Linked DNA regions of Homo sapiens: regions 1, 2 and 4 are each linked to region 3. Evidence: fine-mapped expression QTL. A gene starts in region 3. Each other region holds a variant in brackets. All regions are shown on one strand. Distances are between the middles of the regions. Region 1 overlaps SMAD3 (SMAD family member 3). Region 2 overlaps SMAD3 (SMAD family member 3). Region 3 holds the start of SMAD3 (SMAD family member 3). Region 4 overlaps SMAD3 (SMAD family member 3).

Region 1 (5,000 bases), 120 kb after region 3:
CTATTTTTTTTTTTTTTTTGGAGACAGAGTCTTGCTTTATCCAGGCTGGAGTGCAATGGCACAATCTTGCCTCACTGCAACCTCTGCCTCCTGGGTTCAAGCGATTCTCCTGCCTCAGCTTCCCAAGTAGCTGGGATTACAGGCACCCAACCACCACGCCCAGCTAATTTTTGTGTTTTTAGTAGAGACGGGGTTTCTCCATGTTGGCCAGGCTGGTCTCGAACTCCTGACCTCAGGTGATCCACCTGCCTTGGCCTCCCAAAGTGCTGGGATTACAGGCGTGAGCCACCGTGCCTGGCTGAAATCCTCTAAATAAAAATACTCTGAAAGTACAGATGGATAGGTTGATAAGTAGGCAGTCATTGTTGGAAGAGTGATCTTCTCTTATTTTCATGTATCATTATTCTAAACAATTTAGAAAAGGTAGAAAAGAATTGTCCACTATCCAAACACCACTACTGTGAACCTTCTGCCTTCTAGCCCCCAGAACATAAGTAAAAGATGACTTTGTGAGTTTAAGGAAGATGAAGCTGTGTTACGCATCACTTGGTTTGCTTATGAAGTTATCAAGCTTAGAGGATTTTACGATCCAGAATCACAACTGTCAGAACTTAGAAGGGCTGTAGAGAGATGGCAGAGTGAGGTTTTCTCAGACCTTGTCCTGGAGCCCCAAGGGTTGGCAAAGGGTTCCTGCGGCAAACTCAGGAGGTGGGCAGGTTAGCAAAGGGAAGCCTGGTCCCACGTGAACCAGGGCACCTCTGCACTCGCTTGCTTTATATCTCGGGCTCTCACAGAAGACTTCATTTGAAGAGAGGATTGATTCTGTAGTGAAGAGAAGAAAAGTTTGGAGGCCATGGGCCTAGGTCTGTGCTCTCATTTTCTAGGAAAGGGACCTGATGTCTAGGGGGTTGGGGAGGGTAGGGAACGGCTCTGCAGAGACCTCATTGTCAGTGACAGACAGCCACCACTACCAGACCTGTTGTTCCCATTTCGCTTTTTGTTTTTTACTTCAAAAAAGATACTTATTCTGGGTGGCATACCACTGTTTGATTGATTGATTGATTTAGAGATAGGGTCTTGCTATGTTGCCCAGGCCCAGTCGCAAACTCTTGGGCTCAAGCTATCCTCCCATCTCAGCCTCCTGATTAGCTGGGACAATAGGCATATACCACTGCAACTGGCTTTTTTCTATATTTTATTAAAAAAAAAAAAAAATATATATATATATATATATATATATATATATTTTTTTTTTTTTTTTTTTTGGAGCGGGGAGACCAAGTCTCGCTCTTGTCTCCCAGGCTGGAGTGCGATGGCACAATCTTGGCTCACTGCAACCTCCACCTCCCAGGTTCAAGTGATTCTCCTGCTTCAGCCTCCTGAGTAGCTGGGATTACAGGCATGTGCCACCACACCTGGCTAATTTTTTGTATTTTTAGTAGATATGGGGATTCACCACGTTGGCCAGGCTAGTCTCGAACTCCTGACCTCAGGTGATCTGCCCGCCTCAGCCTCCCAAGGTACTGGGATTACAGGTGTGAGCCACCATGCCCGGCCTATTTTTTTAAGTTACTGAAACGAAACAAACATTTTTGGTCTGGGTCTTCGCATCCCCACCTCTGCCTTCTGCTCTTACTGACATGATACAGTTGTGGACAGCCAGGAAGTCATCCCTCCTGTGGACTCTGAGCCACCAGCACCCTGCAGAACTAAAGCCAGAAAAAATGGGGAGTGGTTGGAGGAAGGGGACAGTAGTGGGAATAGGAGGCAGGACAGGGGACATCCAGTGATGCATGGGTCGGTCACCTCGTGTTCATCCTACCGGATGCTGGGCCTGTAATATCTGGCTCCGTGTTCTGACCTCTGAGCTTCTTCCCCAGGAATGGAGCAGAGACTTTGCCATGCAGGAGAAGGGACCATCCCCTGGCCGAGCAAAGAGCTCATTGTCAGAGTTTACGCAACTGTTTGAGTTGCAGAGCCAATTTAAAAATAATTTCTGTCCATCTGGAGTGGATTTAAGAGATGAAAGAAAAGTAAATGATATAAACCTCTGGAATGTTTTAGAAAAATGCATTGAGGGAAGAAAAAAATAAGGGCATAGCGTTAAACCATCCCTGCAATAAAGGGCTCCTTGGGGTGTCTGCTGCATCAGAAGGAGCCCTGCAGGTTTACTGAATGAATCTCTGAATCTTGGAGTGTGAAGAGACCAAATAATAGTGGGGTAGTAGTAGCAGTAGCAGCAAGAAAAGCTGACACCAGGCACTTACTGTGTGTCTCACAGTAATCCTGCAAGGGTAGAGGTTATCATCATTCCCTTTTTTTTTTTTTTTTTGGAGTTAGGGTCTCACTCTGTCTCCCAGGCTGGAGTGCAGTGGTGTGATGGGAGCTCACGGCAGTCTTGAACCCCTGGGCTCAAGCAATCCACTCACCTCAGCCTCCCAAGCAGCTAGGACTACAAGGATATGCCACTATGCCCAGTTAATTAAAAAAAAAATGTTTTTGTAGAGATGAAGTCTCATTACATTGCCCAGGCTGGCCTTGAACTCCTGGCCTCAAGTGATCCTCCCACCTTGCCCTCCTAAAGCTCTGGGATTATTGGTGTGAGCCACCGCGCCTGGCCCCCATCCCTATCGTAGAGACAAACGAAGACTCAGAGGGTGAATAACTTGACTGAGGCCCATGCCTACTCAGTGGCAAAGGCTGTCACTGAGACCTATCCTGTGTGCCCATCTCTTGTCATCTGCCTCCCTTGGCTTTAGGAATCCGGCAGTGCCCATTTCCCCTACTTTAGGCTTGGGCTTTGGGGCCCGTTTGCCTGGGGAAGCTG[G/T]CAGTCACTGGGAGCAGCTCTGCTGTTCTGCCTCCTTTGCGAGCCTCAGGTGGCCCCAGGGCCATTGTGTGTGAGCAAAGGCACCCTGTCCAGTCTAACCTGAATCTCTGTAGGAAGAGGCGTGCGGCTCTACTACATCGGAGGGGAGGTCTTCGCAGAGTGCCTCAGTGACAGCGCTATTTTTGTCCAGTCTCCCAACTGTAACCAGCGCTATGGCTGGCACCCGGCCACCGTCTGCAAGATCCCACCAGGTAAACGAGCCGCACAGGCACCCCTGCCTTGAGGTCCCTCTCCGAGTGCATGCCTAGGATGCTGGAGAGAGTCCACCTTTCTCACCTTTTCTGCTCACTCATGATTGCGTTGTCAATCTGGAGGTGATTGGATTAGGTTTTCTCTATGCCCACAGATCTAACTGTGCTTTCCCTGAACTTCCAGGGAGCAGATGTAGCATCTGATAGGTCTGCCTTTAACCTGTGGGTACCTGCCTGTTGCCCTGTGCGTAGATGCTCAGGCAGTATGGCTTCCTTTCTTCACTCATTCATTGCACAAACAGCATGCAGGGCTCTGTGCCAGGTGCTGTAGGGGATGAAGAGGTAGATGCGGCCCTGCTCTGCCCCCGCAGACCTTACAGGCCTGCAGAGCACAGAAGACAAAGACACGGATGAGTTCAATATAAGGGACGGGTGCCAAGCACCAAGCCAGCAGCCCAGGTAGAGAGAAGGCCCATTTAGCTGTTGGGATGGATCAGGGAAGTCTTCATGGAGGAGAAACATCCGGATCCTGAAGGATAGGTAGGCACTAGGCACAGGGAGGGCATTCTAGACAGGGGGAGCAGCCCAGGCAAAGGGCCTGAGGTAATGGAGGGCAGGACATGGATGGGTAGCTCTCTGGCTGGAGGAGGGTCATGTATGAGACCGTCAGGGGAAATGTTTCAAAAGCACAACAGCATGAGGCCGTGGAAGGACACCAGAGAGTTTGACTCTAGGGAACTGCTGAGGGTTTTCTGAGTGAGCCTGAAAAATCCCACCTGTACCCCAAGAAGAGGTGTCAGGCTGCACCCCCGAGAGTGGTTTGGACAGGGCCACGCCTGGACAGCAAGATCAGGCAGGTGGCTGATCCCATCTAAGGCCTCTTTCCTCAGGAAACCAAGGCAGAAAGCCCCAGCCAAAGTCCACTTTTCACAGGACGTGCAGCCACTGTGTAGGCAGCCCACAGAACATGGCCTGTGACAGACTAGTGGAGCAGGTAACCTGGCCAGGCCATTGCCTGTGGCACGTGTGTGGCATGCCCCTTCCTGCCCACTGAGTAGCAGATGGTAGTGGAGAAGTGGTAGACCACAGGCAGGGGAAACTTTAGAATGCAGAAAGTCTGAAATGATAATAGCACACCAGGTTTCCAGAGCATTTTGTGGTTGCATTTATAGAGTACATTCCGATCGTTGACCTCATTTAGTCCTCACCAGTTATTCTCTGGCTCTATAAGTAAGGAGACGCTTTGAGAGACAAGTTCAGAGAGTTTCAGCCACCTGCCCAAGCGCACACAGCTAGTAAGTGGCCAAGCCGGGATGGGGCCTAGGGCTGATGGACTCTCAAGTTTGGTGCTCTTCTGCTTCTTGGCTCTGCTGGGGGTCAGGGCCCAGGTTCAGCCCTGTTCCACCACCCTTGTCCTTGGAGAGAATGAAGAAGAGGAAGCTCAGTGACGCTCTTGGCCTTCTGCCTCTTCCATTCCCCGGCCCCACCCCCATCTTTTGGGTGAGGGCTGAGTTGGCTGTGGTGTTGTTTGTCAGCTCATAGAATGTCAGAGCTGGAAGGACCTCTGAGGCCAGCCCTTCATTATACAGAGACACAGGGTCCCCAAGAGAAAGCGACCAGCTCAGAGTCACACAGCAAGAACAGGAGCCTGCTGTTGGCTCATTCATAAGCGTCACCCCGGCTCACCTTTTGGCTATTTCCAGCATGTGCTTTTGTCTTTATTTTTCTGGTTGACACATTCCTGGCACTCAGGCAGTAAGACTTCAAACGACATTTATTTTAAACTTTATTTGTGACTGTCTTTAGTTTTACTGTCTGGAGAATCAGATGCACACCTTCACTTAGCTGTGAATGTCACCTCCACCCAGCCCAGTGCCCAGAGGCCAAAATTTGGCCCAGATCTCTCCTTACCTCCTAGCCCC
Region 2 (5,000 bases), 63 kb after region 3:
AATATGAAAAGCATTTTTTTAAGACAACTGACTCCTCTGAGTCATGCCCAGGGGAGCAAACGGCCTGAAATATGAGCTTGTGCTTGCTGGAGGAGGATGACAGAGGAGCCTGCTGCTGAGTTCACTGGTGCTGGGGTTAGGTCACTGCTGGGCTGAAGCGCACTGACCATAAGAGCAACATGTGGGCAAGAGCCGCGGCACTGGGGTAATTTATTGCCGCCGCTCGCTTCACCAGGAACCCCACACGCTGGGTTCCCACAGGATGCGACATTCCCACAGGATGGGACAACTGCATGGAAACCCACACTCGGGCCTGTGTTGAGCAACCACGTTTGAGTAAGAGTTATCTTATTTGGCAGGGTGGGTTAGGTGTGGGGTATTTGTCACTGAGAAGCAGAAACTGTATGCTCGACACACACTCCCTGAGTCCTTAGGGAATTGCGTAGTTTTTTTCTTTTCTTTTCTGGGTTCATCTTACCAGCAGTCGTGTTTGAGAATGTGCACAGCTCACCTTCGTTCAGCCCTTTACAGTTTACCTCCATAGCCTTCTTTGCGTCTTGGCACCATCTTGCGAGGTGTCAGGCCAGGTGTTAGGATGCTCTGTTTACAGATGAGGAGATTGAGGCATGAGTTGTGATTGCTCACAATTGCCTCCTGAGTGGTGGGGCCATGCTGGGGCACTGTGCCCAGACTCTAGACTTCCAGGGGTCCGGGACCTCCTGCTGCCAGTCTCCTAGCCCGTTACCACAGCTGTCTGTTTCTTGGCCTCTCCCTAGATTTCTAATGGAACTCTTGGGGTACAGTCTGGAAATAGGTATTTTAAACATGCTTTGCAGTGATTGTTACAGATCTTCATGTTCAGGTGGCCCAGGGGCTGACCCTGCTCCAACTTCCCCCTCAGACATTAAACCTGTACCACCCACTGAGATGGTTTTGATTTTCTATTCTGCGTTTAAGGCCCATCTTCACCCCATAAATGCCAGCTCCCCAAGGACAGAGCCCTTTCCTGTCTTGTCCACACCATGTTCCAGGGCCCTGGACGGTGGTTGGCACACAGTAGGCCCTTGGTAAATGTTTGTCGGATGAGTATGTCTCTTCCTCAGCTCTGTGGTTAGCTGGGAGAGCTCCGACAGTAGAGTCTGGCAGGTCTGGTTCAAGCATCCCTTTGGTGTAACATGGTGTGAATGGTGGGGCCTCACTGAATTGTGGAGTGGGGGGCAGTGTGTCTCCCTACGACCTCCTGGTGAGGAGAAGATAGTCACCACCCACACAGGCACACTCTTGAATATTCCAGGACGAGGTGGGCACTCATTAGAGGGCAGCTCTTACGGCCACTGCCTGGTATGTTTTGGCGTGAGCAGTAGGGTCATCGTGGTGGTCAGTTTTTCCACTGCCATCAAATGGGATCCATTTAGCTCTCAGACAGACAAGGTATAGGGCTGGACTCTGTGCCGTGGGCTAAATACCGGCCACCTCGAGCCTCAAATCAAGCCCAGACACCGGCATAAACCCAGGTGGCCCAAGCCGAGGTCGCTCCCCAGGGCCAGGCTCATGAATGGATAAGTAAATATTTACCCTGTCTGAGGTCGAATGTGAACTGTCTACCAGGTGTTTTGTTTTTCTGTCTCCTCCCTCTGTTTCTGCAGTGCCTCCCCCTGTAAAAAAGGAAACCAAGAGGCTGACAGGTTAAGTGACAGGCTTGACACAGCTAGCCATCAGAACGTCCTCCAGTCCCATCTGAGTCCTGTTCCTCCTCAGGCACCTCCTCCAGGAAGCATTCCCAGATGACTGGCCCATCCTGCCCTTTCCCTCCTCTGAGCCGCACCCTGCAGACGGCCCTCTACCTGTGAATCCATACAGGATGTAGGCAAAGGGGAAGAGGTTTGCTCATCCTCTCTCCTTCACCCTTGTGCATATTAATACTCACCTGGCAATTAGTCATATGCAACTCTTATATTGACCTTACATGTTCCGTGTCTTCTGTGCCCGTCTCTGGAGTTCCTGAAGATGAAGGGCTGTGTCTGCTGCACCTTCAGACTTTTTGAAATTGATTGGTTGGTTTGTACATCCATTTATTCACCCCACCCCTCATCCTACTGTACACGCTTATGGTCAGTCTATTCTGTGTCGGGCTCAGGGCCTTTCTCCCCAAAGTGCGTTCATGTCCAAGGCTAGAGTGGATGGCTAGAGGCCAGAGGACAGCTTAGGCTGAAAGTGGTAGGGAGACTATCAATGAAGCTGGGGGGAGCTGAGCTTCTGAAACTTGGGAATAAATTTTCAGCCTTGCTAATGTGTTCCTCTGAAAAAATATCTTATCAGGCCCTCAGATATCCACCAGTTCTCCCTTTCCAACTTGCAGCCTGCACCCTTGGCCAGGAAGTTCATAGGCAACAAAATAGAATCCACCTTCCCTATCACTCACCCCTTTTAAAATGTGACTAACTCTGAGCTAACCAAGCCTTGGCCAGACGTGGATATGGTTATGCACGGACTCCGTTTTGTGGTTTGTCATTTCTGACTTGCTGGGAAATCCTTTGTTGGGGGTGGGGATGGGAAGTAGAGCATCTCTGGGGCTGGAGTTTTTCTAAGATGTGTAAGATTTAGAGGCTGTCATACTGCAAACAGGGAGAGCGGGCTGTCTGCTTGGCTTCATGGTCAGTGGAGAACAGCCTGGACTTGGAGTAAGAACAGCT[A/G]GGTTCAGATCCCTGCTTTTACTCCTGACCACTTAGTAACCTTGGCCGAGTCCCTCAACCTTTTTGCCTCAGCTTCCTTATCTGTAAAACATGGGGTTCTTGAAGGATTAAAAGAGCTGGTGTGTGTAAAACCCAGGAACATAGTTCCTGGTGTATAGTGACTTATAATTTCGAAAACCTTAAGATTTTATTCATAAGATTTTTTTTTTCAAGGCCAACTTAAGATTTCTAAGAGTTTGTTTTTCAAAGAGCTGGGGTCTTGCTTTGTCGCCCAGGCTGGAGTGCAGTGGTATGATCATAGCTCACTGCAGCCTCAAACCTCTGGGCTCAAGAGATCGTCCCACCTCAGACTCCTAAGTAGCTGGGACTGCAGGTGCACGCCACCACACCCAGCTAGTTTTTAAATATATTTTTTAGTAGAGTGAACCTCGCCATTTTGCCAAGCCTGGTCTGGAACTCCTGGCCTCAAGCGATCCTCCCACCTCTGCCTCCAAAAGTGCCAGGATTACAGGCCTGAGCCACCACGCTCAGCCTTCTAAAAGTATTTTGGTGTGCACCATTAGCACTGTGTCTTAAAGGCGATGTGCACCTTGAGCACAGAGTGTTGAGTGCGTGGTGGATGGATGTCATTTGCGTTTTACAGATGCGGCAACAGAAACTCAGGCCCAGCCACTTACCCGAGGCCACATAGTCCCAGGTAGAGTTGGAATTTGGAATAAAGCCTGCTGACTCCAATCCTAGATGCCTTCCACACTCCTGTCCCCCTACCTCTACACCAGGCGTCCCCAACCCCTGGGACCCCTGGGAAGTGATGTGCACTTAGCACCTCACTATGGGAAACATAAAGCAGGAACTAACAGGACTCCTCTCTCAAGAAGGAATTTCAGTCTACTTGGGGAAAGAATAATAGCCAAGCAGTAACTCAGGTTTGTTTAGCCTTCTAGAGCAGTGTTGCCGGATATCACTGTAGTGTGAGCTACAGTGTATGGTAGCCCCCACTTGTTCTTGGTTTTGCCTTATGAGGTTTCAGTCAGCTACAGTCTGGAAATAGGTGAATATAGTACAGTCAGATGTGTTGAGAGAAAGAGACCACATTTATATAACTTTTATGATAGTATATTGTTATAATTGTTAATTTCATTATTAGTTATTGTTGTTAATCTCTTACTGTGCCTAATTTATAAATTAAACTTTGTCTTGGGTGTACATGCACAGGAAAAAACACAGTGTCTATAGAGTTTGGTACTGTCTCTGGTTTCAGGCATCCACTGGTGGTCTTGGAACGTATTCCCCTCGGATAATTGCAATTACTTCTAAAATCTAAAATCTTCTGGCCATGTTAAAATGTAAAGAGAGGGTGAAATTAATTTTAAATACTATATCTTGTTTAATACAGTGTATCCCAAACCATCATCACTTTAGCATATACTCAAATATAAAGATTGTTAACGAGCTATATTACATTCTTCTTTATCATACTGAGTCTGAAGTTGATGTGTCCTTTATACTTGTGGCACATCTCAGTTTGCACTGTCCACATTTCAAGTGCTGCCATGTGGCTGGTGGCCACCATATTGGACACCACAGCTACAGGATTTCTTCGTTAGGTCAGTTGATGTCACCTGCATTTTGGAGTGGAGTCATTGAGCTCACTGGCTGAGTTACACAGCTAGTGAGGAGCCGGGTGGGACCAGAGCTTGGTCTTCTTCCCATTAAGGAAGAAGGGAAACTTGCATTTGCTGAATGTCTACTATGTCCCAAGTGCTGTGCTAGATACTCTACCTTTGTCATTCCATTTAGTTCTCACAGCAGCCTTGCATGGTGGATGAATATCATGTGCATTTTACAGATGAGGCAACAGAAACTCAGAGAGGCCCAGCAACTTACCCAAGGCCACGTAGTCCCAGGTAGAGTTAGAATTTGGAATAGGGCCTGCTGACTCCGGTACTAGGTGCCTTCCACTCACCTGACCTCCTTCTCTTACACCAGGGGTCCCCAACCCCGGGGCCGTGGACTGATACCCGTGTGCGGCCTGTTAGGAACCGGGTCTCGTAGTAGTAGGTGAGTGGTGGGCAAGTGAGCATTACGGCCAGAGCTCCGCCTCCTGTCAGATAAGCGGCTGCATTAGATTCTCATAGGAGCGTGAACCCTATTGTGAACTGCATATTGGAGGGATCTAGGTTGCACACTCCATATCAGAATCTAATGCCTGATGATCTGAGGTGGAACAGTTTCGTCCTGAAACATCCCCCCCAACCCTCATCTCTGGTGCCAAAAAGATTGGGGACCACTGCCCTACACAGAGAA
Region 3 (5,000 bases):
CACTGCCCAAAGTCAAGATCAAGAGAACATGCAGGGTCTTCTCAGCACTGGAAGAATCAGTTCCTCAGCCCTCCTCAGAGCTTTCTGAAACTGGACTTAGTCCCCCAGTGGAGGGACTTCTCTTGGAGAAACAGGCCTGAGGAGAAAGAACTAGCCCAGAAATGGCACTTATTAGACTTGTAGGTGGGTCCAGCACTATTTTTCTGCATGCACAGCTGTTCTTGTCACACGGATGCCAGCAGGGAAGCATGGTTCTGCCACACTAACTAGCTGGCTGCCTAGTTATTTCCTCCCCTCAGGAAAATGAGAGGGCTGAATGAGGGCCCCTTCCCATACCATGATTTTACAGGGTGAAGTACCTGTCAGGTCCTTCTACTACATGTAATCCTCAAATCTCTCTGACGCTCTTCCTCTACAGTGCAAATCACTCTCCTTCAGCAGACATTGCTCTCTCTGTAACATAAAGGACTTGAACTACAGGAGGACAGTTACAATGCTCTTTCTGGATCCACCACTCTGCACAGTGAGAACCGCTTGCTCCATTCTTACAGCGGAGAGAACGGACGCTGCCCAAGGGGAAGAAGAGAAAGAGCCGGGATTGGAAGCCAGGCCAGTCACTGATGGATCCTGAGCCCCTCTTACTTTCTTTGGCTACCTCTCAATGGTTGGACTTGTTCAGGTTAAGATTAACACTTTACTGGACGATGATGACTGCAAGGCCCCTGCCCATCTTTGCCCACTCAGTCACATCATCCTCATCCCCACCCTTTGATGCTTCTCTAGGCTGTGAACGCCTTGAAAACCTTAGTCTTTTATTTTGGAAGTTCAGGAACTGAATAGGAGGGCTGCAACTCAGAGCTGCTCCGTCAATGTGTGTTAAACTTATTTGACCTCCCTCCACCACTTTTCATGGCATTAGCAATGCAAACCTTTTCACATGAGCTTCCCACAGCCACCCTAGGAGATCGCGAGGGAAGCTACCTCTAGCCCCATTTTACAGGTGAGCAAATAATCCTTGCAGTGTTACAACAGTGTGCCCGTGTAGAGAACTGTTTTGCAAAGAGCTCGATCAATGATGTCATCTTTGCCTTCCGTGACCCAGGCAGCTGGGTGCAGTCTCAAGATCGGAGACTGAGGCTTCAACAAAGTATTGGGTTCAAATTCCAGCTCTGCCACTTGGAACCCTGAGTAAGTAATGTAATCTCTCTGTGCCTCCGTAAACGTGAGGCACAGGAACATCTACCTCACCAACCACTGTTAAGACTGAATCAAAGGGCAGCAGGCGGACTACCCGGAATGAAGAAAGCAATCAATAAATGTGGATTGTGTCATCCTTGTCTCTCTTGACGGACGGGAAGAGGAGAGTGAAACCTAAGACCACAGCGGCAGCGCGTTAACAGGAGGACCAGCAAGGAACGGAAGCCAGGTTGTCAAGCCTCAGTTGGCTTTCACGTATTCTCCTTTTCAGGCGGGTATTTAGGAAGAGAGGAGGGTGAGGAGCACAGCGCACTTCTGCAGCAGCAGCTGCGGATTGGCTTGTGGGAGGCGGTTCTCCGGAGCAAGGCAAGGGCCCCTGCCGCTTCTGGGCTGACTGTGGATTCCGCCACACCTCACAGGGCTTTGTAACTCCCCACCCACTTGAGGGTTCCAGATAACTTTTTTTTTTTAACAAAGCAGGGGTGGGGGTGGGAGATTCCTGCTGTTAAAAACAAACAAAGGGCTTAGACACCGGCTAGTCGGCTGCGGGAGGCAGCAAGAGAAAGGCCGAGGGGCCTGGAGTAGCTCCTGAAAACCGCCGAGGGCCCTGCGGGCAGACGCCCCTGAATTCTTTTGGTGGGGAGAAAAGCCGCGGAGCTCCCCAATGTGCCAATTGGTTTGTTGTTGTTTTGCTTTTTTTGAATACACAAACTCTCCGAAAACTCCTGTCTTGCCCCACTTTTTTGTGAGTTCATTGCTTTGGAAACAAAACTCTCTTCCATTTATTGGCAATTATCAAATTTCCGATCCTTCTCTATCAGGAGATCCAGCAACAAACACCCTGTTATGTAAATTTCTTTCAAAGATAAATTCGAAAGCCCCTCCATTCATTCCTTCAAGAACTCAACAGATGTCCTTGAGGCTCATTTTCTGCCGGGCACTCGGTTCACAAGGCTCAAGAGACCCCTGGCTCCAGCCATTGTCCAGGTTGTCACTGGTGTCCCCAGCTCTCCACTTCTGAGGACCCACTTCTCACCCCCTCCTCCTCCGCACACGTTCCCGAGGCTCTCGGCCGGTGTGATCTCACCGACTAGAGAATAAAAACAGCCCAGGGGCGCCGGCGCCGGCCAAGGGCCTTGACGGGGATCAGCAAGCGCGAGGCCAAGTGCGGGCCCCAACTTCCTGGGCCCGGGCCTTCCGCGCGCCCCCTCTCGGGCTCGGGTCCTCTCCAGGGTGCACTCGCGTCCGGACGACGCTTACTTGCTGCGAGTCCAACCCTCTCCGGCCCGCAACTCCAACCGAGCCGCCCGAGTGTGGACTCCGAGAGCGGACGCCACGGGCCGCGCTCAGCCCTCCCGCCCGAGGCCCCTCTCGCCGTGTTTCCCAGGACTTCCTCCCCGCGCCCGCCCGACTTCAGGTCGGGGCCGCGCAGGGTCCCGCGCGCTCCAGCCAGGACTGCCGCCGCCCGGGTCGCCCACGTGGGCGTGCTGGGCGCGGGGTGGTGGCCGGCCGGGCGCCCTCCCCGGAGCAGGGGGCGGGCAGGGCGCCCGCGGGAGGAGGTGGCGGGGCGCGGGGGAGGAGGCGGGGAGCCCCGGCGGCGAGGGGGCGGTGACAGCACTTGGAAAGGAGGCTGCACGCGGATTTGCATGAAACACAGACTGGGAGCGGGCGGGAGCGGGAGCGCGGCGCACGCCCCGGGCCGGCCCAGCCAGCGAGCGAGCGAGCGGCGAGCCGGGAGGAGGAGGGTGGCGGGGCGGTGAGGCCGCAGAGGCGGAGGGATCTGCGCATCAAAGCTAGCGAGGCGAGCGAAGTTTGGCCGGGGGTTGGACTTTCCTTCCCGGAGGCGGCACCCAAACAGCTACCCCGTGCGGAAACCCAAACTTCTGCTGCCACTTGGAGTCTCGCGGCCGCCGCCTCCGCCCCGCGTTCGGGGCCTTCCCGACCCTGCACTGCTGCCGTCCGCCCGCCCGGCCGCTCTTCTCTTCGCCGTGGGAGCCGCTCCGGGCGCAGGGCCGCGCGCCGAGCCCCGCAGGCTGCAGCGCCGCGGCCCGGCCCGGCGCCCCGGCAACTTCGCCGAGAGTTGAGGCGAAGTTTGGGCGACCGCGGCAGGCCCCGGCCGAGCTCCCCTCTGCGCCCCCGGCGTCCCGTCGAGCCCAGCCCCGCCGGGGGCGCTCCTCGCCGCCCGCGCGCCCTCCCCAGCCATGTCGTCCATCCTGCCTTTCACTCCCCCGATCGTGAAGCGCCTGCTGGGCTGGAAGAAGGGCGAGCAGAACGGGCAGGAGGAGAAATGGTGCGAGAAGGCGGTCAAGAGCCTGGTCAAGAAACTCAAGAAGACGGGGCAGCTGGACGAGCTGGAGAAGGCCATCACCACGCAGAACGTCAACACCAAGTGCATCACCATCCCCAGGTGGGGGCCCGCCCGGGGGGGACCCGGGGTCACGCCGGCCCAGCCCCCTGGCACTGCGGGGCCGACCCAGTGGGGCTGGAGATGGGAAGAGGGAGAGAGAGGGAGGGAGTGAGACTGTGTGGGTGCGTGTGTGTGAGAGTGGGAGAGCGCGGGCAGGAAGGGGGTGGGGGGACCCCAAACAAAACCATCTCTGATTTGCAAAGATCAGAGCCCGAGGCTTCCACGCGGCACTCTGGCTTCCACACCTCACATTCCCTTTCCACCTCCGGGAGGGGAGAGCGGGTTGCTGCGGGACTCGGCCGCCCCCACTCCGGGGAGCTGGGGCTGGAAGTTGAGGCCCGCTTTGTTCGGCTCCGCGGGCCGGAGCCCCTCCTCCGCCGCCGCCTCCCGCCCCCGCGGCCCGCGCTCGTGGAGGTGGTGGTGTCTTTGCGTTTCTTTTCTTCAGTCGGGTCTCCCCACTTTCCTCTACAGGAATGCGGTCCGTACAGCTGGGGCTGTGGGTGAGGAGCGGGAGCCTAGTGATTGACAGATTCCTTCTTCGTTCTTTCTTTGCCTTCGGGATTAGCATTTTTATCGAGTATTTTTAGACTCGGTTGTGCCAGTCTCCCGCCCCCTGAGCATGCACGCACTTTGGTTGCAGTGCAATGCTCTGACTTCCAAATGGGAGAGACAAGTGGCGGAAAATAGGGTCTTCTCCCACCTCCCACCCCCCCATCCCGACTCTTTTGCCCTTCTTTTGGTCCAAGAGATTTTGAAACCGTGCAGAACGAGGGAGAGGGGCAGGCTGCAGCCGGGCAGATAACAAAACACACCCCAAAGTGGGCCTCGCATCGGCCCTCGCATTCCTGTAGAGCCTTCCTTCCCAAAGCGCGCTGCCATCTGTCTGGATCTCCTTTATCCTTCCCGTTGCGCGCTAGCTAGGTCGGGCGGGAGCCCACAGATGGCTGATAGAAGGGGTCAGTGACTTCACTCCCCCAGGGCCTTCCTTAGCTTAGATGTGCCTGGCTGGGAACTGGGGGTGCGGGTACCTTGGCTTCCTGTCTCTACCTCTCAGCCTCCTTTGATGCTGAACCAAGGGAGAGAGCGTGTGTGTTGGGGGCTGGCTCTTTTGGGGGTCCCAGGCTGCCGAGGAATGAGTAGAAAGCACCAGGGACTGTCAGCCGCAAAGGGATTGTCATCCCTGCTCCTGGGCCAGGGTGGACTCCATCCTTGGCCACCTGCTTGGGGCAGTTGTACAGGGGCTGCCAGGCGAGTCAGGCAGGCACAAAGCAACATCTGTCCACGGGAACCGAGGGCAGGCCTCCCCTGGAAATAAATGCCACATATGGTGGGAGTGCGGACTTAAATTTTTTTTAACTGGGTGGATCCAGTCAATAAAGGGGGAGGGAAGGCGGTG
Region 4 (5,212 bases), 36 kb after region 3:
CTGAGGGCCCACTGTTGCTCAGCTGGGGGATTTGGGGACGGTGGGAGGGCATACATGGATGGGAGGGTGGACTCCGTTCCTGAGGGGGCCAGTGTGGAGGAGGGTCAGGCAGCCCATGGAGATGGGACAGTGTTCTGAAATGCTTCACAAATGTGGACTTTTGCCCCAAACTGTGGACAGAGCGTATGTCCTGAGCGAGGATCAACTCTGTGAGTACCCATGATAATTCTCCTTTCTGTGGTTGCCGCCCTGTTGATTCATGTGTCAGCCTTAGAGAAAGTGGCTGTGACTTCTGCATTCCTGGGAATACACTGACATGAGAAGAAGTAGCCGCTCTTGTTCACAGTCACAGGGCTGGAAAGTGGGATAAGGACTAAGGACTTCTGTCTCTGGATTCAGCATGCTGATTATGGGGAAAAGCAGACATCAATTCCTCATGTCTTGTAAGCATCACTGTCCTCCAAAGTTGGAGCCCAGCTCAGACAGCTGCATAGTATTTTATAGAGAAGGTGTGTTGTTGAAATGTTGATTATGCAAATTGAATTGTGTTTTAAGACTACTGGGAAAACCATTTAAAGGAATCCTGTTGTAAGTCATTTTGAAAAATGGAGAATTACACCACCTCCCCAAGGATTTTCTGTTTTGGTAAATTTCATGTGGCAAGATTACTTGAAGAAGGGTTCCAGTGTTTTGCTAGCTTATAATGGTTACTGCATAAGGAAGGTTTACTCGCCAGAGGTCCGCATACATTGGAGAACTGGGGGAATATGTAATACTTGTGCAGAAATGTTTTGATTCATGTACTCAGAAGATGGGATCTGGATGACACCTCCAGCCTATTGATTCCCAAGTAAGGTGTGATGACACCACCACCAGCGAGGTGTGCTATGAGGAATTTTTGTTGATGATGAAAAGTGAATGCTAACTGATTGCACACCACGTGCCCCATACCTTACATAGATTATCTTATTTAATTGTTGCTAATAATAGTACTACAGTCTGTGAATGATTTACTTAGCAATTAATTCAAAAGCATATTCCACTCTACAATGGAATATTTTTTGAGCCAAGAAATGAAGTACGTGGCCGGGCGCAGTGGCTTGCGCCTGTAATCCCAGCACTTTGGGAGACCAAGGTGGGTGGGTCATTTGAGGTCAGGAGTTCAAGACCATCCTGACCAACATGGTGAAACCCCATCTCTACTAAAAATACAAAATTAGCCGGGCATGGTGCCACATGCCTGTAATCCCAGCTACTTGGGAGGCTGAGGCAGGAGAATTGCTTGAACCCAGGAGGCAGAGGTTGCAGTGAGCCGAGATCGCACCCTTGCACTCCAGCCTGGGCAACAAGAGCGAAACTCCATCTAAAAAAAAAAAAAAAAAAAAGGAATGAAGTATGTGCCACAACATGGGTGAATCTTGAAAACATTGTGCTGAGTTGAAGAATTCAGACATCAAAAGCCACATATCACATGATTCCATTCCCATGCAGTATCCCCATAGGCAAATTCACAGAGACAGAAAGCAGATTAGTAGTTGCCAGGGATGGAGGAGAGGGGAATGGGGAGTGACTGCTTCATGGATACAGGGTTTCCTTGAGGGATGTTCTGGAACAAAATAGTTGCGGTGGTTGTACAATATTGTGAATGAACTCAATGCCACCAAATTATACACATTAAAATGGCTAACATGGTAGATTTTTGCTGCATGTATTAATATATTAATGTATTAATAAATGTATTAATTACAATATTAATATATTGTGATATACTGTGATATATTGTGATAAATATATCAATATATTGTGATAAACATATAAATTGATTTTAATATATATTAAAATCAAATGTATTCCTCTAATGGTGTCCATGTCACTGACTTAGTTTCTGATAGGTTTGTATTGGGTAGGAAAGAAAGGAATGGGACATTTACGTGTACACTGAGGCAGAAGAAAGAATGGGACTTTCCAATCCAGGCTCTACCTTTATGAGGAACCAGAGACCCAGAGAGTGCTAGTGACTTGCTCAAGGGCACAGAGCAGCGTACCAGAGTTGAGCTTTGGCTTCTAGCCTCCTCACTTTCTATTGGGGAAGTCACAGTGGAAAAGGGGGTTTTGGCTCCTTTATGTCTTTGGGTATGTTCTGGGTCACTGAGGATCAGCTCTATTCCACCTGGCATTTTGTGCTTTCCATGGGTGCTCAGGAAACTGTCTGTCTCACCCTGAGGTGAGGCTCAGGAGGCTCTGGGGCTTTGTAGTAGAAATAGAAATATCCCAAGTCCTGGGTTGTGTCCTTGTGGATGTGTCTAGAACAATTCCTGTTGTGCTACTCGCTTTGGGCAGTTAGCGAAAGGGACTAATTGTGTGCAAATACATACGTTTGGTGTTTGTTGGGAGACTTGCCATGTGACACTGCTTCTTCTTTTCTTCTCTTTTTGACTATGAACACCTGACACTACAGGAAATAAGAAACTTTCCAGTACCTAATTTATGCTTACTCTACTTTCAAACCCTGTTGGCCCCAGCACAGGGTAAATGAAACTGTAGCTTATAGTAATATTTACGTATGGGAGTCAATGAGCTGTTTAAATACTTGGATGTCAGAAAAAGGTTTCAAATTTAGCAAGCCCCCTGACTCTCCCACCCTCTGGCATGTACTGGGTAGGCCTGCCTGCTCTCTGAGGTCGAGCTCTTGTATCCTGTCCTGGTCGGTGCCAGTATAGCAATGATGATGACAGTGATGATGATGCCACTGGAACAGGCTGAGCTGTAATTGAATTAAATATCTGTGTAATCCCTAGGAGAAGCTGAATAAGGTTTGAGGATCTTGGAAGTTCAGTTATACTCTCAGTAACTGAGGTGAGATCCGTAGGCAAGGAATGACAAGATCGAGATTGATTAGCTACATGACCTTAGGAAAGTGACCTAAAGGTTGTTCACATTCAGAGTCCTCATCTTTGAATGTGAATGATATTTCTGGCCTCTCCTATCTTATGGAGTTGGTGTAAGCATCTGCATGAGATGATGGACGTTAAAGTGCTTTGTTAGCTGTTGAGACTCTTACTGAAATGAAACCCAAGGATGGGTGCCACTGAAAGAAACAAGAATGAATGCAAACTAGTTTGTGTTGGGAGTTGTACTTGACACAGCTGAATTTGCCTTTGTCTTTAGGAGAGCCTTAGCTGTGGGAAGCAGGGCTTGGAATGCGCTGATATTTATTTCTTCCATCAAAT[C/T]GGATTATGAGGCACCTGATCTGTTTAAGGCTGTGTGAGTAGAACCAGGTCCTGCCTTCCGGAAGTTCATGGTTAAATTGTGTTTTCATGGGTCACCTGGAAGGCGAGCTTGTTCAGAATGAGGATAATTGACCCAGTGAATCCTTCCTGCCTCGAGGCCCACCATGTTATTCAGATCAGTCTTGGGGGAAATGCTGTGAAAGTGTGTGTGTGTGTGTGTGTGCGGTGTGTGTGTGCATGCTCGCGTGCATGAGTTTGTGTTGAGAGAAAGAAAAAAGCCAGGAGAGTAGGATGAGTCAGATTTAACCACTGTTTTTTCCCTTTTGAAACTTGTTATGTTCATACACATACAGCAGTCATGCACTTGCTCAGAAATGTGTGAAAACCACTTAAAATGTGTGAAATGCAGCCCTTTAGAAAGTGTGCCTTCCACCACATTCTTTTGAGCAGTGGAGTGGATTTGTGAGTGTTCATATCTGTCCTCATCTGTGGGAATTGTATGTCCAAGGTGCTAATTCAGGGCCATACTGGGATGACCTGTGTGTATAGACTTGTCCTGGGTGAGATGGGAGCAAGACCATCCAATGTATGATGGGGAATTCTGTTAAACAGGTAGAATTCTGAACCTCTTGGTGGTCCTGGCTGGTCAGTTGCAGGGAGTGACGTTGAATGGACTGGGAAGATCTGGATATACCATGTTTCTGTAGGCATGATACGTGGTCCCTTAGCTTGGTATTTAAAGTTCTTTGGAAGTGACCGCTTTCTGGATTTACCTCTGTGCAGCCCCTCTGCTCCTCCCAGGTGAGGCTCATCATAGCTCCTCTTCAATGTGCTTTGTCCACAACTGCTGCCATGTTTTAGCTCCCCATTACGTTTCCTGGGATGCTCTCCTAGACTCCTCTGTACCTTTCTTCTTTCAAACCCAAAACAGGTCCCATCTCCTTAGTCTTAACTGTCTATGAATGGTCTGTTGCCTCACTTCCCAGCTCTGGTATGTAGTACGTGCTCAGTACACATTTTTGAATGCATTAATTTGGCTCTTTTCTGTGAAGGCAGCTTGTCTGTGTGTCATTCATCTGCCCAAATTTGATTGTCAACTTCCTTTGTATGGAGCTGTACTGTTCTTTTTGTTGTTTTTCTTAACTCCTTGCCCCTGCCTCCCATCACCCCAGTGGAAGAGTTATAGTCAAGGTAGTGTAGTCAAGGTCGTGCAAAAGCTACACACTTGAACCTGTTCCGTGTGGTTTCACACAAGGCACATGGCCTCCTTGGGACTCACTTCACATCACTCGACAAGGGGATAGCAGGACCCACCTTGACTGTATTGAAGACTGCATGATGATCAGGAGAGAGTGAGGGATGAGAAAGAGTTTGGAAAACAGCAGAACACGATGCAAACATGAGTTATTCATGGTTTTGTGTCCAGGCTAACTGTGCCCTGACATTAAGGCTGGGTGGGTCTGGCCCAGGGCTTCTGGGGTAGGCGCTGTGCTGGTGTGTGCTACTGACCTGGAGTCCAGGATCCCTGAGTCCCACTCACCCTCCCTGGGCTGCAGTTTCCTCAGCCCAGCTACCCTTTCCAGCTGTGACTGCTGGTTGTGGAGCTGAATGTGTGTGGGGTGTGGGCCTGTGTGTGGACTCCCCACCCCTGTGCGGTTTTCCTAAGCACATAGCACAACAAGGAGCTGGAACAGAGCTGCAACAATGAGGAGGGTTTCCTCCAACTGTCAGTGCTTCTGGATCCACCGTTTCGGCTTTGACATTACCGTGAGTGACCACCCTGGACCTCTTTCTTTGTGCCAAACTCGTTGCTGGATTGCCATAAACACTTACTTGGATTGATTAGAGAGGCTATTTGCCGTATTGAAGGTGGCAGAATTATTTCACCTTTTCCAGAGGTGTTGACGTTCAAGGGTAGTTGGTGGTGACTGTACAGAAGGGAGACAGGAAGCCTGGAGGAAGGAAAGGGGTGCGTAGCCGAG

Evidence for each region. PIP is the estimated chance that this variant, and not a neighbour inherited with it, causes the effect. A credible set is the group of variants that fine-mapping cannot tell apart.
Region 1: its variant is the best candidate, but not a certain one, in a credible set for the expression of SMAD3 in lung (TOPMed, PIP 0.59).
Region 2: its variant is the best candidate, but not a certain one, in a credible set for the expression of SMAD3 in thyroid (GTEx, PIP 0.73).
Region 4: its variant is the best candidate, but not a certain one, in a credible set for the expression of SMAD3 in nasal epithelium (TOPMed, PIP 0.83).

Annotation. Positions count from the first base shown.
Region 1 is chr15:67,181,787-67,186,786 of GRCh38, forward strand. SMAD3 (SMAD family member 3) reads left to right here. Exons shown (of 9, transcript NM_005902.4): 7 at 2,941-3,078. Among named protein-coding and RNA genes, the nearest start is that of SMAD3-AS1, 37 kb to the left of the region's middle. The variant G/T (reference allele first, on the strand shown) is at 2,828.
Region 2 is chr15:67,125,649-67,130,648 of GRCh38, forward strand. The region is part of intron 1 of SMAD3 (SMAD family member 3); the gene reads left to right. Among named protein-coding and RNA genes, the nearest start is that of SMAD3-AS1, 19 kb to the right of the region's middle. The variant A/G (reference allele first, on the strand shown) is at 2,694.
Region 3 is chr15:67,062,757-67,067,756 of GRCh38, forward strand. It overlaps SMAD3 (SMAD family member 3), which reads left to right and starts at 2,846. Exons shown (of 9, transcript NM_005902.4): 1 at 2,846-3,604. The coding sequence starts at 3,399. SMAD3-DT (SMAD3 divergent transcript) reads right to left here and starts at 1,426. Exons shown (of 6, transcript NR_135686.1): 1 at 360-1,426. RefSeq lists enhancers at 1,094-1,864, 3,404-4,172 and silencers at 2,623-3,112, 3,283-3,442, 3,593-3,642, 3,893-3,952, 3,973-4,062.
Region 4 is chr15:67,098,816-67,104,027 of GRCh38, forward strand. The region is part of intron 1 of SMAD3 (SMAD family member 3); the gene reads left to right. Among named protein-coding and RNA genes, the nearest start is that of SMAD3, 36 kb to the left of the region's middle. RefSeq lists an enhancer at 2,151-2,300. The variant C/T (reference allele first, on the strand shown) is at 3,231.